Linked DNA regions of Homo sapiens. The protein of the gene in region 1 purifies or fractionates together with the protein of each later gene. This does not show direct contact. Each region holds a gene or a part of one and is shown on either strand. Other genes may lie near its edges. The genes, in order: PTPN9 and LZTR1.

What was found.
Region 2: the proteins of PTPN9 (region 1) and LZTR1 purify together in Homo sapiens (affinity purification with mass spectrometry; 3 studies listed by BioGRID and IntAct, with this or other methods). This does not show direct contact.

What each region holds. Positions count from the first base shown.
Region 1 is NC_000015.10:75,519,668-75,527,534, reverse strand, and holds part of PTPN9 (tyrosine-protein phosphatase non-receptor type 9), read left to right. Parts: intron 1-273; coding exon 274-417; intron 418-3,236; coding exon 3,237-3,326; intron 3,327-4,289; coding exon 4,290-4,414; intron 4,415-7,867. UniProt on the Homo sapiens protein: Protein-tyrosine phosphatase that could participate in the transfer of hydrophobic ligands or in functions of the Golgi apparatus.
Region 2 is NC_000022.11:20,992,297-21,000,163, forward strand, and holds the end of LZTR1 (leucine-zipper-like transcriptional regulator 1), read left to right. Parts: coding exon 1-73; intron 74-497; coding exon 498-608; intron 609-1,365; coding exon 1,366-1,458; intron 1,459-1,627; coding exon 1,628-1,723; intron 1,724-1,807; coding exon 1,808-1,973; intron 1,974-2,261; coding exon 2,262-2,431; intron 2,432-2,573; coding exon 2,574-2,730; intron 2,731-3,449; coding exon 3,450-3,576; intron 3,577-3,666; coding exon 3,667-3,816; intron 3,817-4,399; coding exon 4,400-4,505; intron 4,506-4,589; coding exon 4,590-4,670; intron 4,671-4,935; coding exon 4,936-5,052; 3' UTR 5,053-6,736; downstream 6,737-7,867. Other genes in the region: THAP7 (THAP domain-containing protein 7), read right to left, coding at 7,584-7,867. UniProt on the Homo sapiens protein: Substrate-specific adapter of a BCR (BTB-CUL3-RBX1) E3 ubiquitin-protein ligase complex that mediates ubiquitination of Ras (K-Ras/KRAS, N-Ras/NRAS and H-Ras/HRAS).

The DNA.
Region 1 (7,867 bases):
CCCTCTTCTCCCCCCTCATTTTTTCATGCATACCTGCACTAAGTCCTGTTTTCTGAACCTAGATCTGGCTTCTGGCCTCATTGAATTATACAAATTTTAACTATGTCTGGTTTCAGACCTGTTTCTACCTTTTTGTTTGTCTTTCCCTGCTCCCTGTAGCAAACTGGGTTCAGACTTGCTTGGAGAAGGGATGATAGTTTTCACTTGTTTGTTTTTTGACTCCATAAATATGCTCTCTTCTTACTAATTATTCTTTCTTTCTTTGTCAAACAGGCTACCAAGCAGTTTCTCGAAGAGATTAACAAGTGGACAGTTCAGTACAATGTTTCCCCGCTGTCTTGGAATGTGGCTGTCAAGTTCCTCATGGCAAGGAAGTTTGATGTGCTCCGTGCCATAGAATTGTTCCACTCCTACAGAGTATGTGGCTCAGGGGTAGACCAGACCTGTGGCAGTTGGGTTAAGTGTTGCTGTTGTCCCTGTCATGCTCGACACACACATTGGTTCTCTAAGTGTTCCTCCTCACTTTCATAAAAAATGGATCCATATCCAGGAGCCCTTGTGAGAGCTGAAGCTGGGCAAGGCAGCTACTGGAAGGCACTACTTTTGTACCTAAGTTTTGATCGTAGACCAGGATGCCACATCTAATGATTGAGACGGAGGAAGTAGCCTGACAGCATCCTGGTGGCAGGATAGGGGTTCACCCTTCCTAGAGTTTTAATCCTAGCTCTTTTCATTGGCCTCTGGCCACATGAAAATCTTGGTTTTCAGGTTGTCTAAGGCTTTTAGAAACTTGCCATTCAGATGAATGATGAGCTTAGTGGGCAGTTCAGGAAGGGAAGTTTTAACACTGGAAAAGAAGAGCAACTGTGTATTAGCTAGGTCCATTATCTTAAAGTATCTTTATGCAAATGTAGCGGCATCAGGATTTTACTTTGTTTTGATTTTTGTTTTTTGAGGGGGCATAGACTTTGGTTTTGTGCTTGTTTGCTTTCTCAGTTAGTAGTGTCTTTGATAAAACACTATACAGCATGTTACTTTGGGGTCAGAATCCTTCTAAAGAAATACAAAATCTCCCTAAAAAAAAAAATTGGGATAACAAGCACTAGGATTAGCTTAACTGAAGTTTGGTTACATCTGTCTTGTGGACCAGCTCATTCAATATTCATTCATTTACTCAACAGATACTTATTTTATACTTACTGTGTTCCAGGTGCAGAGATTACTATTTAGAAAGAGAGACTAGGGCTGGGTGCGGTGGCTCATGCCTGTAATCTCAGCACTTTGGGAGGCCAAGGCAGGTGGATCACTTGAGGTCAGGAGTTTGAGACCAGCCTGAACAAAATGGCAAAACCGCATCTCTACTAAAACTACAAAAATTAGCTGGGTGTAGTGGCACCTGTATTCCCAGCTACTCGGGAGGCTGAGGAGGGACAATCACTTGAACCAAGGAGGTGGAGGTTGCAGTGAGCCGAGATCACACCATTGCATTCCAGTCTGGGCAACAGAGTGAGACTGTTTAAAAAAAAAAAAAAGAAAGAGAAAATAAACAAAGAGTTGTAGAAATGTTATGATAAGGCAGCACTGGATTCTGTGGAAGCACTTTTTTTTTTGAGACAGAGTCTTGCTGTGTCTCCCAGACTGAAGTGAAGTGGCATGATCTCAGCTCACTGCAGATCTCTGCCTCCTGAGCTCAAGTGATCCTCCCACCTCACCTTAGCCTCCCGAGTAGCTGGGACCACAGGCATGCACCACCATACCTGGCTAATTTTTTGTATTTTTAGTAGAGACGGGGTTTTGCTATGTTGCCCAGGCTGGTCTCGAACTCCTGAGCTCAAGTGATCCACGCACCTCGGCCTCCCAAAGTACTGGGATTACAGGCATGAGCCACCGTGCCCAGCCTAAGAGGTTTAAAACAAGCGGTTGATGAAATAAGACAAACCAAGATAATATTTTTTTGTTATCGGTATATAAAGGTAGAGAATGTCTCCGGAAAAAGGAAGTGTAGGTGGTCAACCTTGTCATTTAAGAGGAGAACTGAAGAGGCTGGGCGCGGTGGCTCATGCCTGTAATCCCAGCACTTTGGGAGGCCGAGGCGGGTGGATCGCTTCAGCCCAGGAGTTGGAGACCAGCCTGGGCAACATGGCAAAACCCCGTCTCTACTAAAAACACAAAAATTAGCCAGGCATGGTGGCACGTGCCTGTAATCCCAGCTACTCAGGAGGCTGAGGCAAGAGAATCTCTTGGACGTGGAGGTTGCAGTGAGCCAAGATCATGCCACTGCACTCCAGCCTCAGCAACAGTGTGAGACTTGGTCTCAATTAAAAAAAAAAAAAGAATCTGGCCATCAGGGTGAGGAAAATGAAGTCATGGTAGCTGCTGTTGGAGACAATATCAGGTGGAGAGAAGGCTCCTATTTAAACATAGGAGAGGCCTAAACCTAGAAAATATGTGAGAACGTAGGCATCCAGACATTTTTGAGGTCCATATTTTAGTGTCCTGGTACCATGTCAGTGCTGCTGCGTGTTTAAGAACCTTGATCCTGCACCTGAATGTAACATACTGGTTACTCTTCAGGGTTAGGGTTCTTACTGAGTCAGAGAAAAATACCCTACCTGAGGGGCTGATAAAGTAGCTTTGGACAGGAATTCCGAAAATGCTTGACTGGCTTGGAGGCAGGTTACAAAGAAATTCATAATTCATTTAGTTGACTTCATTATTCATTTAGCTGAATTCTTTTTTTTTTTTTTTTTTTTTTTTGAGACAGAGTCTCATTTTGTCACCCAGGCTGGAGTGCAGTGGTGCTGTCTTGGCTTACTGCAACCTCCACCTTCTGGGTTCAAGCGATTCTCCTGCCTCAGCCTCCTGAGTAGCTGGGATTATGGGCGCGCACCACCATGCCAGGCTAATTTTTGTATTTTTAGCCGAGACAAGGTTTCACCATGTTGGCCAGGCTGCTCTCGAACTCCTGACCTCAGGTGACCTGCCCGCCTTGGCCTCTCAAAGTGGTGGGATTACAGGCGTGGGCCACTGCGCCCGGCCCATTTAATTGAATTCTAATTCAACTAAATGAAGTAGAATTGGTTATGAAATTAGTTACAAAATTTATTTAGTTATGAAATTTATAATTCATTCATTCATTGATAACCACCTTATCTCTGAGATTTGGTGGTTACATGGTGCTGTCCTGGATATACAGTATTTTCATATTAATACATTTTGCTGTGCTTCCTTTTTAGGAAACTCGAAGGAAGGAAGGCATTGTAAAGCTGAAACCTCATGAGGAACCTCTTCGTTCTGAGATCCTCAGTGGAAAATTCACCATCTTAGTGAGTGTTTAGGGACCTATCTTGTAGGGCCTTATTACTTCCTTTTTTAACTGGTGTCCTGTTTGGACTTTGTTTTTTTTTTTTTTTTTTTAATTTTATTATTATTATACTTTAAGTTTTAGGGTACATGTGCACAACGTGCAGGTTTGTTACATATGTATACATGTGCCTTGTTGGTGTGCTGCACCCATTAACTCGTCATTTAGCATTAGGTATATCTCTTAATGCTATCCCTCCTCCATCCCCCCCTGTTTGGACTTTGTTCCTATATACCTTATCCTGAATCTAGAGAGTCTCCACAGTTAGGAGCAGATGTGAAACAGCCATGCAGTTTGGTATAAAATTATTTTAGTAACAATTGAATTACTAATAGTTTCTAGTAATTAGAGTTACTAATGATAATTGAATAATTGAATTATGGAAAATCAGTTGTACAGTAGACTTAGAAAAGTTTCTTCAGTTGGTCCATTAAGGTTAGTCATGGTCTTTGGGAGAGATATGCAATGTGTCAGACACCCATGCTTCCATATTTAACGCAAGCTCTCCACTTAGTTGAGACCTCAGCCTTTCAAGTAAACATACAATGGCACTTTTAAGGCAGAGGGTGGAAATCATGGTCCTGTTCCCTGGTTCTCTCCTGCTGCTTGTTTCTTTTGCCATTCTGCCAGGGAAGTTAGCTAGGAAGCCAGTGCACAGCCATCCTTTGATCTGTCTGTAGTTGAAGAGCAAAGAGAATGTGTTTTTTTTTTCTTACCACAGAAATATGGTCCAGGGAGTCCTGGGAGAATCAGACAAAGGATGATATTAACACTCTTCCCTTTGGACAGCAATTGGTGAAGTCAGGGAATTATTGTTAGCATCTGTTTTCTACATGTATCAAACCCTTATCCAGTATATAAGTCTTAGTAATTGCTGTGATTTTCTATTTGATTTTTTTAATGTTTCTTGTTTTATTTGCTTTAGAATGTTCGGGACCCAACAGGAGCCTCCATTGCCCTCTTTACTGCCAGGTTGCATCATCCCCACAAGTCAGTCCAACATGTGGTACTTCAGGCTCTGTTTTACTTGCTAGACAGAGCTGTGGATAGGTAAGCATTGAGATTATTTTTTAGGTATTCTACATGCAGGTAGGAAAGTGACAGTTTTTTACTTGATTAAATTCAGCAGTGCCTTCGCCATTCTCCTAGGATGTGCCCTGGGCAATGCTATGAATAGAAAACAATCCATGTCCTTTAGAACTCGGCATGTTTGCAGGCACTATCAAGATGGTGGGCGTTCTCTTTACCACCTTGGCTCTATGTCAGGAAAACAGAAGCTGAGAAAGTCAATTATCGGCAATCTTCAGTGTATGGAAAACTACTTATTGGAAAAGAATGAGGGGGAGATGACCTGTGCTGGTTCTTTTTGCTCATATCAGAACCTCTAAGGCCTCAGTTTCTTTGTCTGCATAACAGGAATAATGCCGTTTAGTTCAGAGGATTTTGAGACTCAACATTCAGGGGAGGGCTGGGTGCAGTGGCTCACACCTGTAATCCCAGCACTTTGGGAGGCTGAAGCAGGTGGATTGCTTGAAGCCAGGAGTTGAGACCAGCCTGGACAACATGGTGAAACCCTGTCTCTGATAAAAAATACAAAAAATTAGCTGGGTGTGGTAGCGTGCACCTTTAGTCCCAGCTTCTTGGGGGAGGTGGGGGAGGTTGCTGAGGTGGGAGGATCACTTGAGCCCAGAATGGTGAAGCTGTAGTGAGCCATGATCACGCCACTGCATTCCAGCCTGGGTGACACAGCAAGACCTGTCTCAAAAAAAACCCCACAAAAAAGCCCACACAAAACAAACAACAACAACAAAAAAACATTCAGGGAGAAGCCCAGAAGTATAAAGTTAAGCAAAAACCATCCTTAATAAAAAGAGGTGCATAAGCATAAAGAACCAGCTCAGGTCATCACTCTCTTCCTGCTAAGGTAATTGGTATTGTTACAATTCAATTGACAATTAAACTCAAGCCCCAAGAAGTTTTTTACAGTCATCATATGTTAGTCCAGCTGGTTCTAAGATCCTGGTTTCTTCACTCTTGGGCAGAGTTATTTCTGTCCTCCCATGCTGTTGTTCTGCTATTCCTTTTTCCCTGGTGCTTGTAATTTACAGTTTCTTACTGCTCTCGACATCTTTGGCTGGTCCTCCGGATTAGAAGTGCTATATTGAGGCCAGGCGCATTGATTCATGCCTGTAATCCTAGCACTTTGGTTGGCTGAGATGGGCAGATTGTCTGAGCCCGGGAGTTTGAGACCAGCCCTGGGCAACATGATGAATCCACTCGCTTCTTGAGGGCAGGAAACTTTCTTTTTAACATCCGAATCTCTGTAGGTTGAGAGAGAATGGTATCGTGAACATCCACATATCCATCATCCGTCTTCTTCAAAGTGATCTGTAACAGTCTTGTTTCATTGGTAGCCCCTCATGGATCTCCTATCCTCAGTTTCTTTCTTTTTTGTTTTTTGAGACTAGGGCTTGGTTTGTCACCCAGGCTGGAGTGCAGTAGCATGATTGTAGCTCACTGCAGTCTTGAACTCCTGGACTTAAGCAATCCTCCCATCTCGGCCTCCCAAAATGCTGGGATTACAAGCATAAGCCATTGCATCTGGCTTCTCCGTTTTTTTAAAACCAATGTCAGGGACTGTATTTTAAACTTCTTGGTGTTTTCTGTAACATGTAGCTCAAGAATTAAAAAAATATTTTTTTTATTTTTTTTTTCCTTTGAGACGGAGTCTCGGTCTGTCCCCCAGGCTGGAGTGCAGTGGCGCTATCTCAGCTCGCTGCAAGCTCCGACTCCCGGGTTCGTGCCATTCTCCTGCCTCAGCCTCCCGAGTAGCTGGGACTACAGGCGCCTGCCACCACGCCCGTTTTTTTTTTTTTTTTTTGTATTTTTAGTAGAGATGGGGTTTCACCTTGTTAGCCAGGATGGTCTCGATCACCTGAGCTCGTGATCCACCCACCTCAGCCTCCCAAAGTGTTGGGATTACAGGCGTGAGCCACCGTGCCCGGCCCATTGTAAATCTTAAACTGGGTGCAGTGGCTCATGCCTGTAATCCCAACACTTTGGGAGGCCAGGTGAGAGGATCGCTTGAGCCCAGAAGTTCGAGACCAGCCTGGGCAACATAGCAAGGCCTCGTCTCTACAAAAAGTTTAAAAATTAGGCAGCCAGGCATGGTGGTATTTGCCTGTAGTCCCAGACACTCACGGAAGGCTGAACTGGGAGGATCACCTGAGCCCTGGGAGGATCACCTGAGCCCTGGGAGGATCATCTGAGCCCTGGGAGGTCGAGGCTACAGTGCGCCATGATTGTGCCACTGCACTACAGCATGGGCAACAGAGTAAAATGCTGTCTTAAAAATATATATATTCTGGTGGCTCACGCGTGTAGTCCCAGCACTTTGGGAGTCCAAGGGGGTGGATCTCCTGAGGTCGGGAGTTTGAGACCAGCCTGGCCAACATGGTGAAACCCCGTCTCTAGTAAAAATACAAAAAATTAGCCAGGCGTGGTGGTGGGTGCCTGTAATCCTAGCTACTCGAGAGGCTGAGGCAGGAGAATCACTTGAACTTGGGCGGAGGTTGCAGTGAGCAGAGATCGCACTATTGCACTTCAGCCTGGGCAACAAAAGCGAACTCTGTCTCAAAAAAAAAAAAGTATATGTATATATATACACACATATATAAACACACACACATCTATCTATCTATCTATCTATCTATCTATCTATCTATCTATCTATTCTATACCCTAAAGTGTGAAAATCTTACTGCATTCATGTTTTATGTGCCTTCACAGGATGAGCACTTTGATCTGGGAATATAGAACCTGGATCATTCATTATGCATCCAAGCTTCTTTTTTTTTAAATTCTCTTTGCCCCCTCACTGACTTGTTTTTGTTTTAGTCCCCTGCCACAACCTGGAGTCATGAGGGGAAAGCCCATAATTTGAATTTGACCCTTGAGGAGCTCATGGAGAAATAGAAAGTATCTAGATCTGGATAGCCTATTCAATAATTGTGCCACACATTTTCTTTGTTTCTTTTTATTTAAGAGACAGGGTCTCACTTTTGCTCGGGCTGAAGTGCAGTTGCATCATCATAACTCACAGCAGCCTCAACTCCTGGGCTCAAATGATCCTCCTGCCTCTGTCTCCCAAGGAGCTGGGACCACAGGCACGTACTAATAAACCCGTCCAATTTTAAAATTTTTTTGTAGAGGCGGAGTTTCACTCTGTTGACCAGGCTGGTCTCGAACTTCTGGCCTCAAGCAGTCTTCACATCTCAGTCTCCCAAAGTGCTGAGATTACAGGTGTGAGTCACTGGACCTGTCCTGTGCCACACATTTTAACAGCATCTTGGACCTTTGTGGATCATAGTCTCTCTGGGGTTGTGAAAAAGGAGTCAAGGGCAGGGCGCAGTGACTCACACCTGTAATCCCAGCACTTTGGGAGGCCGAGGGGGGCAGATCACTTGAGGTCAGGAGTTTGAGACCAGCCTGGGCAACATAATG
Region 2 (7,867 bases), on another chromosome or scaffold:
GAAGTCCCGAGATGTGTTTGGCCTGGACTTTGGCACCACCTCAGCCAAGCAGCCCACCCAGCCTGCCTCGGAGGTACAGGCTGGGATCCTCATTAAGACTCCATCACCCCCTGAAACAGGTCCTGTGATCAACACCTCTCACACATGGGGAGACTGAGGCCCCGAGAAATACTTGCTTGGGGTCACACCACAAAGGGGGTACAGGGCCAAGGGCCCTCACCCTGCTGGCCAGGCTGCAGCTTTCTGGGGTGGGTGCCACACACTGGCCCAAGTGCCCTGACCACTCTGAGGGTCTCCATGGCCCGTCATGCCCCACTCGCCTACATGGGTACCAGGTCCCACCTGTGTCTGTACCCAGGGGCCCTCATCCCTTGGGGACCCTGCCCCCTGGCCCTTCATGGCCATGAGGTGCCGCATCCTTGCCTTACCTGGCTGCACCAGCCGCACTGTGGAGGCTCTGCTCCCCCACCATTCCACCCTGCCTTCTTGTCCCCCAGCTGCCCAGTGGGAGGCTCTTCCACGCGGCTGCTGTCATCTCGGACGCCATGTACATCTTCGGGGGCACGGTGGACAACAACATCCGCAGCGGGGAGATGTACAGGTTCCAGGTGTGGGGCCTGTGGGCCTGTAGAGCCGGCTGGGTGGACGGATCCCCCGTGATGAGAAACTGAGGCCAAGTTGGGGGGCAGGGCTTATCCAGGCCATTGCCAGGGCCACACCTGGCAGGATGGAAGCCTTGGGAGGAGCCCTGTGGGCTGAGGGTGGGCTGAGGTGGCACTAAAGTGGGCAGCCTTCGTGCAGTGGGGCAGGCAGATGGTGCTGGGGCTCACGGCAGAGTCAGTGGAGGGAGCCGGGCCAAGCTGGGCTCAGCACCAGAGCCTCACAGGCATCATAGCCTGGCCCAGGGCAGAGCCAGGGCCGACAGTGGCTTGCGTTGACAGCCCCTTCCCAGGCCTGGAGGAGCAGGTGGTCAGGGCAGGGACTCACAGCCACAGTGAGGTCAGGGCCAGCTTCCTGGAGGAGGTTGGGATGTGCTGGTGGGGGCCAGTGTGAGGACGCAGGTCCAGGCAGAGTGGAGACGGCAGAGCTCTGCTGAGGCCTGGGGCCCAGCCGAAGGCAAGAGAGGCAGGGGAGCCCTTTCCTGCTGTGGAGCCGGCCGTGGACAGTTGCAGGTGCTGAGGCTGGAGCCAGGCTGTATTTTCAGGGTGGGGTAGCGGCTGCTTCCTCTCCTCAGCCAGGCCCACCTGCCTCCTGGGCCCTGAGGGTCAGCATGGGCCAGGTGGGGACCTCAGGGTCGGCCTGCACAGCCACACTGGGGCCACCCTGCTGTCTGCAACATCTAGTCTCACTGGGCCCCTCTTGCAGTTCTCCTGTTACCCTAAATGCACGCTGCACGAGGACTACGGGCGGCTGTGGGAGAGCCGCCAGTTCTGCGACGTGGAGTTCGTGCTGGGTGAGGTGGGTGCCTGTCCTCGCACCCTGCTCTGCCTGCTGTGCCTGGGCAGTGGGAATTTCGCCCCTCAGAAAAACAGCTGCTGGCCTGGTGGTGCTGACCTTGGCTGGCTGGGTCTCTGTTCTCTGGGGCGAGGGTCCTGTGCCCTCTGCCAGTGCATCATTCTTTGTGCAGAAGGAGGAGTGCGTGCAGGGCCACGTAGCCATTGTCACAGCGCGGAGCCGCTGGCTTCGCAGGAAGATCACGCAGGCGCGGGAGAGGCTGGCCCAGGTGAGGTGCCTAACCGCCCTGCCCTGACCTGGCAGCCATGCCTGGTGTCCACTGGGGTGTCCTTGAGCTCCCTTCTCCCCACAGAAGCTGGAGCAGGAGGCCGCCCCAGTTCCCAGGGAGGCCCCCGGCGTGGCTGCTGGTGGGGCCCGGCCGCCCCTGCTGCACGTGGCCATCCGGGAGGCCGAGGCCCGGCCCTTCGAGGTGCTCATGCAGTTCCTCTACACCGACAAGATCAAATACCCACGGAAAGGTCCGCCTGGGTGGGGGTGGAGCAGGGTTGGTGTGGGCTGGGGTGCGGGCAGCAGAGCCAAAAGGTGGGTGCTGCCAGCCCTGCCTTACTGATGGGCCCCCTGAGGCTCAGAGGCTGCAGGTCACCCTCCTTACCCATGATCACTGCAGCTGGACGCCATCTGAGTCCCCCGAGGCCTTGTTCCTACCTAGTGGCCCCAGCCCACACTCTTCCATGGGGGGAGCCCTGCGCCCTGTGCCCTGCCCTCCCCTCTCCGGCTCCCTGAGATTCGGGGGCTCTGGGGCGCAGGCCATGTGGAGGATGTGCTGCTCATCATGGATGTGTACAAACTGGCACTGAGCTTCCAGTTGTGCCGCCTGGAGCAGCTGTGCCGCCAGTACATCGAGGCCTCCGTGGACCTGCAGAACGTGCTGGTTGTGTGCGAGAGTGCCGCCCGGCTGCAGCTGAGCCAACTCAAGGTGTGGGGTGGGGTCAGCGCAATCAGGGTTGGGTGGGGTGTGCTCAGGCTTAGGCCCCCTCCCTGCCCACCACTGTGAGCCCCTCGCCCAGCCTGGGGCCCTGGCTTGACTCTGCCTGCCTGCCTGTGCCTGTCTGCCCCAGGAGCACTGCCTGAACTTCGTGGTAAAGGAGTCCCACTTCAACCAGGTGATCATGATGAAGGAGTTCGAGCGCCTCTCCTCTCCACTGATAGTGGAGATTGTGCGGCGGAAGCAGCAGCCGCCCCCTCGCACTCCCTTGGACCAGCCAGTGGACATTGGTAGGGAGCCCCGTTCCCCTTCCCTGGGGGCTGGGAGGGATGGTGTTCATCTGCGGTAGGAGATTGGGAGCCATGGAGAGCACCTGCCAGGCCCTCGGGGTGGGGGTGGGTGCCATGGGACCCCAGAGTGCTCTCCTGGGTACAGGGAGGAAACAGATGAAGGCAGAAGCCCCCGACCCATGGGGCTTGCCACAGTGGGCTGTGTCCTGGTGACCTGGGATTTCCTGAGCCAATTTCTGGGGGTGGACATGGGGCACCTCTTTCGGGCTAGGATGTCAGGTCTGATGGCCCAGGGTCACGGTGATCAGTCTCTGGACTTCTCTTTGCTTGTAATGTCACAGGCCCCTTCATTCCCCCAGCTCTCCCTGGGGCTTGTGCTGACCCCGGTTGCTGGCTCTTGGTGATGTCTGCAGGCACCAGAGGCCATGCAGTGGGCCTGGAGGGGGCTTGATCATGAGGTCAGCGAGGGGGTACAGCAAGCTGGGTGGAAGATGAGACGCTGGGTGGTGGGCTGTGCGTGGGGCATAGTGCTTGAGTCGGCCAGGGCGCCGAGGGAGGACAGAATGTGGCTGATGGTACCTCAGGGCGAGTGAGGCCTTCTGCCTGGGTGAAGTTTTGTTCAGGGCAGCAACATGGGCAGATATGCAGGAAGGTAGTGCCGTGGGGCCCCAAGGCCAGAATCCCAGGCTGTACCTGCTCAGGGACCCTCCTACCCCCAGGCACATCTCTGATCCAGGACATGAAGGCATACCTGGAGGGAGCGGGCGCGGAATTCTGTGACATCACTCTGTTGCTTGACGGGCACCCACGGCCAGCCCACAAGGCTATCCTGGCCGCCCGCTCCAGGTGGGTGGGGGCTGGACAGGAGGGGAGGGTGGGCCTGGATGGTGTCTTCGTTCTGCTGACGGCCAGGTGCCTACCGCTCGTTGTCTGCAGCTACTTTGAAGCCATGTTCCGGTCCTTCATGCCCGAAGATGGGCAGGTGAACATCTCCATCGGGGAGATGGTGCCCAGCAGGCAGGCCTTCGAGTCCATGCTGCGCTACATCTACTACGGCGAGGTCAACATGCCGCCCGAGGACTCGCTGCATCCTCACTCCCCAGTGAACTCCCAGGTCCCCACCAAGGGGTCCTGGCACCCACCTCAGGTGGCTTTGAGGCCCGCTCTCCTGCCCCAGCTAGGTGATCTGGGCCCAGCGCCTCCCTCCAGAGGGTTTGCTGGTGCCTGGGGCTGGGCCTGGTGCTCTCTGAAGCAGTTGGCAGCTGGCAAGGAGGGGTTTGCAGCCAGGAGGAACCAGTGGGTTCCTGACCCTCACAACTGCCCAGAGGACGGGGTGGGTCATTGCTTTGTGTGACAGTTGAGCACAGACATGGAGGTACTCCTTATGTCACTTCAGTAGGGGTCTGAACATGGAGGGTCAGGATGCCTGTTAGGCCTGCAAGGCCATGGAACAGCGCTACAGATGTACAGACACTATTTTTCTCGGGAGGGGATTCATGGTTTTCTTTGGATCCTGAATGGGGCCTTTGACCCACTAAGTAGTTCAGAATCCATTTGGAGAGCATGCTGGCGTGGGGGCTTGGGGCTCCAGCTGCGCCCTTCCCTGTCCTTCCCTGGGAGGGTGCGGGCGGACCAGCTTCCTTTAGTCAGCTCCTTAACCAGGCCCCAGCTACTTGTTTGCGGCCCCCTACTACTACGGCTTCTACAACAACCGGCTGCAGGCGTACTGCAAGCAGAACCTGGAGATGAACGTGACGGTGCAGAACGTGCTGCAGGTAGCCCCCCAGCCCCGTGCACATGGCTGCAGCTCCCACTGAGTGGGTGAAAGGGGCAGCGCCTCAAGGTCCCTGCCATTGCAGATCCTGGAGGCAGCTGACAAAACGCAGGCACTGGACATGAAGCGGCACTGCCTGCACATCATTGTGCACCAGTTCACCAAGGTCAGGGCTCTGGCCTCCCCTTCAGGACTCGCTTCCCCTTGGCAGTGGCCATGCCCAGGCAGGGAGGGTGCCCAGGCTCTGTGGTCCCCTGCAGTGGTGGGCCCTGGGGGTGAGAGAAGCAGAGCAGCCCATCACTGGCCGCACCTTGCTTCATCCTTGGGACCAGCCTGAGCCCTGAGCAGGGTAGGCCCCACAGGGCTCCACTGCCCACCATGGCCCTTAGGTGGATCTGGTCCCATCTCCTTCCGGCCTGCTTGCCTTACAGGTCTCCAAGTTGCCCACCCTGCGGTCGCTGAGCCAGCAGCTGCTGCTGGACATCATAGACTCCCTGGCCTCCCACATCTCAGACAAGCAGTGCGCAGAGCTGGGCGCCGACATCTGAGGCCCTGTGGCGCCTGCCCATTGTGAAGAATCGCCGTGCCTGCCTGCCCTGCCTACTGAGAAGACTACCGGCTATGCGCATGCCTATGGCAGTGGGTGCACCTGCCAGGCCAAGGGTCAGGGTGCCCAGAGCCTCCAAAGAGAGCTGAGGGGATGTGGGGCCCCAAACTCATTAATTCACTGAAGACACAGGTCCCACAGGGAGCGGATGATGAAGCAGACCCCCTCCTGTCATCACCCTCTCCTGGTGTAGTGTGGATGCGAGGCCACGGCTCAGTGATGGGCTCACCACCCAGAAGTGGGGAGAGACTTTGGGCCTCCCACCCAGTGGGGCTTGGCCTGGCTTCTGTGGCCTGGGCGTGTTGTGGACTCAGGCACTGGGGCCTGTCACCAAGGCTCCTCCAACATGCGGGAGGAGGCTTAGCAGACTTGCGCTGCACCAGCGAATCTGCCTGGGCTGCTCCTGTCCCACCCACCCTCACTGAGATCCATGTAAGGGGCTCCTCTTCCCACCTGGAACTTGTGAGTGGGGACCCATGATGTATGGGTCTCACCTGACTTGAGGTGAATTTTGGAGTGAAGGGCCCTGAGGTCAGCTCCCAGGTCGGTCGTGCTGGGCCAGGCCTGGTTTTCACAGGGGCTGAAGGATCCCAGTCCACCTGTGTGCATGTCAGGGCTCGGCCGGGAAGAAGCCAGCAAAGTCCCCCGTGTCCCTTGCTGAGTATTCTGTCACAGACAAGCCTCCATTAAAGCCACAGCAGTGCTACCCACCACACACACCTTGCTGGCCCGGCCACCACTGCTGGCTTCAGCCCCTTGAGCAGCCCATGGCTTAGCAGACCCCCAGATGTAGGTCAGTGGCCTTACCTGTCTCTATCCATGCTGTCAACTCCTGCCTCCACCTGGGGTCACCCAGTCACATTGGGAAGGGCTGTGAAGGCCTCCAGGCTGGCCCCTTCCAGGGGAATCCTGGAGGCCTGGGGTGGGCTCCTGCCCCTTCTGCCCTGCCTTGCCCCTGCACTATGCTCTTGGCTCCTGTGGAAGGAGGGCTGCCCTCTTGCCCTAGTGAGGGCCCCATGTGGATCCACTCTAGTGCTGGGAGCCAGCGCTCCCTTACTGGGAACAGGATTCCAGGACCCCTTTCTTGTTGTGGCTGCCATGAAGCCACAGCTCCTTGGGGAAGTGACCTGCTCTCCTTTGGGTGTATGCAGGTGTGTGGGGGGCCCTGAGTGGCAAGTTGCTTAGCTAACAGGAGATCCATAGGCAGCCTGCAGGCTAGGAAGTGGCCTAGTGCAAGATGAGCTGGGAACAAGGGAGGAGAGAGCAGGAGCTGGGGCAGAGGCTGAGCCGGGAGGCCCTTGAGGTGAGGACACAGCAGGCCCAGGACCATGGCTGGGGAGGATATGTCAGCACCTGGAAGTGGAGTGCAGGCTGCAGCGCCCAGCCATGTGGGCCAGGTGCATTCACTCAGAGTGGGGCCACACACCCATCTACCCAGTTTCCACAAGATGTGGCTCCTGCCACACCCACAGGGCAGCCTCCTCCAAATCCCTCCTGGAGGGGCCTACCCAGAAGCCTCCTTGAACCAGTCTGCAACCCTGCTCTATGCTGACCCTTGTCACTGAACCCTGATCTAGACTTATATGAATAAATGAAATTACATGCCAAGGGCCCTAAAAAGCAAATTTTACGAAATTGTGTGGCAGTTTCTGGGACTAGAATGAATTTCATTTGTGCTCCTCGGCAGGGAGAGGCCATACTTGCAGTGAGTCACCCCAAGACGGAGCTGTTTGAGAACTGCAGCTGCAGCAAGGCCTTCCAGGTTCCTGGGAGTTGAAGGAAAAGGATGCTGAGGCCAGGACCTGAGTGCTTGTCTCCATGTTCTGGCCACCTCTTCCTAGATTTCCAGGGACTAGCTTGTTGGGGCTTTACTACCTGCTGACATGACCCAGGAGGTTGATGATTGTCATCATCATCCCCGTTTTTCAAATAGAGATGGTAGTGAAGGGGGCGGGGAGAGGGTTGTCCAGCTTACCCACCAGGCTGATGGGGCCTGTGGACAGAAGCCTGTCATGCTCCTGCTTGAGAACCGGATCTAGACTGGGTTTTAGAAGTGTTCTCAAAGGGGCTGGCTGGTTTAAGTCAGGGCTGTTTCAGATCCTATGGAAAGGGCGCCTGGAGCTGTCTTCCTGGCCCCTACTCACACCATCCTGCCCCTTCAGAGAACCCTGTGGGGCACGGAGCTGCGCTAGCAGGGCTGACTGCCACCTGTCTACCAGTAGCTCTGAGGGGTGAGAGCCAGGCTCCCTGTTCTCCTTGGCAAAGAGCTTGGACTGAGCCCTCTAGGAGCTGCAGCCACTGTCTGGGGCAGCAAGCTTAGTACTCAGAGGGGCTCCAGCCCCCAGCTGAGCCAGACAGCAGGCCCTCCGTCTAGAATCCGCTTTATTATGGCACCTGGTGGGTCTGGTGGGATCTGAGGGAGGAAGAGGCTGCAGTCTTGCTGGGCAGCCCCTCGGTCAGTCCAGCAGCCCCTCAGGCCATGCTGCTGCTCAGCTGCATGGCAAAGTCCTGCACATGCTCCTTCAGAGTCTGGCGGGCATCTGCCTGTGCCCGCTTCTCCCGTGCCCGCTCCTGCTGCAGCTTGGTCAGTCTCAACCGCAGCCGCTGCTCCCGCCGCTTGCAGGCCTGCAGCTGGCGCTGGGCCTTGTCAAGGGCATCAAGGGCTGCCTCGGCTCGCCGCTTCCAGAGTAAGGCGCTGCCCACCTGGTAGCTGTGTTCATTCTGGATGTAGGCTCCGGCGGGTGGGGGCAGGCGCA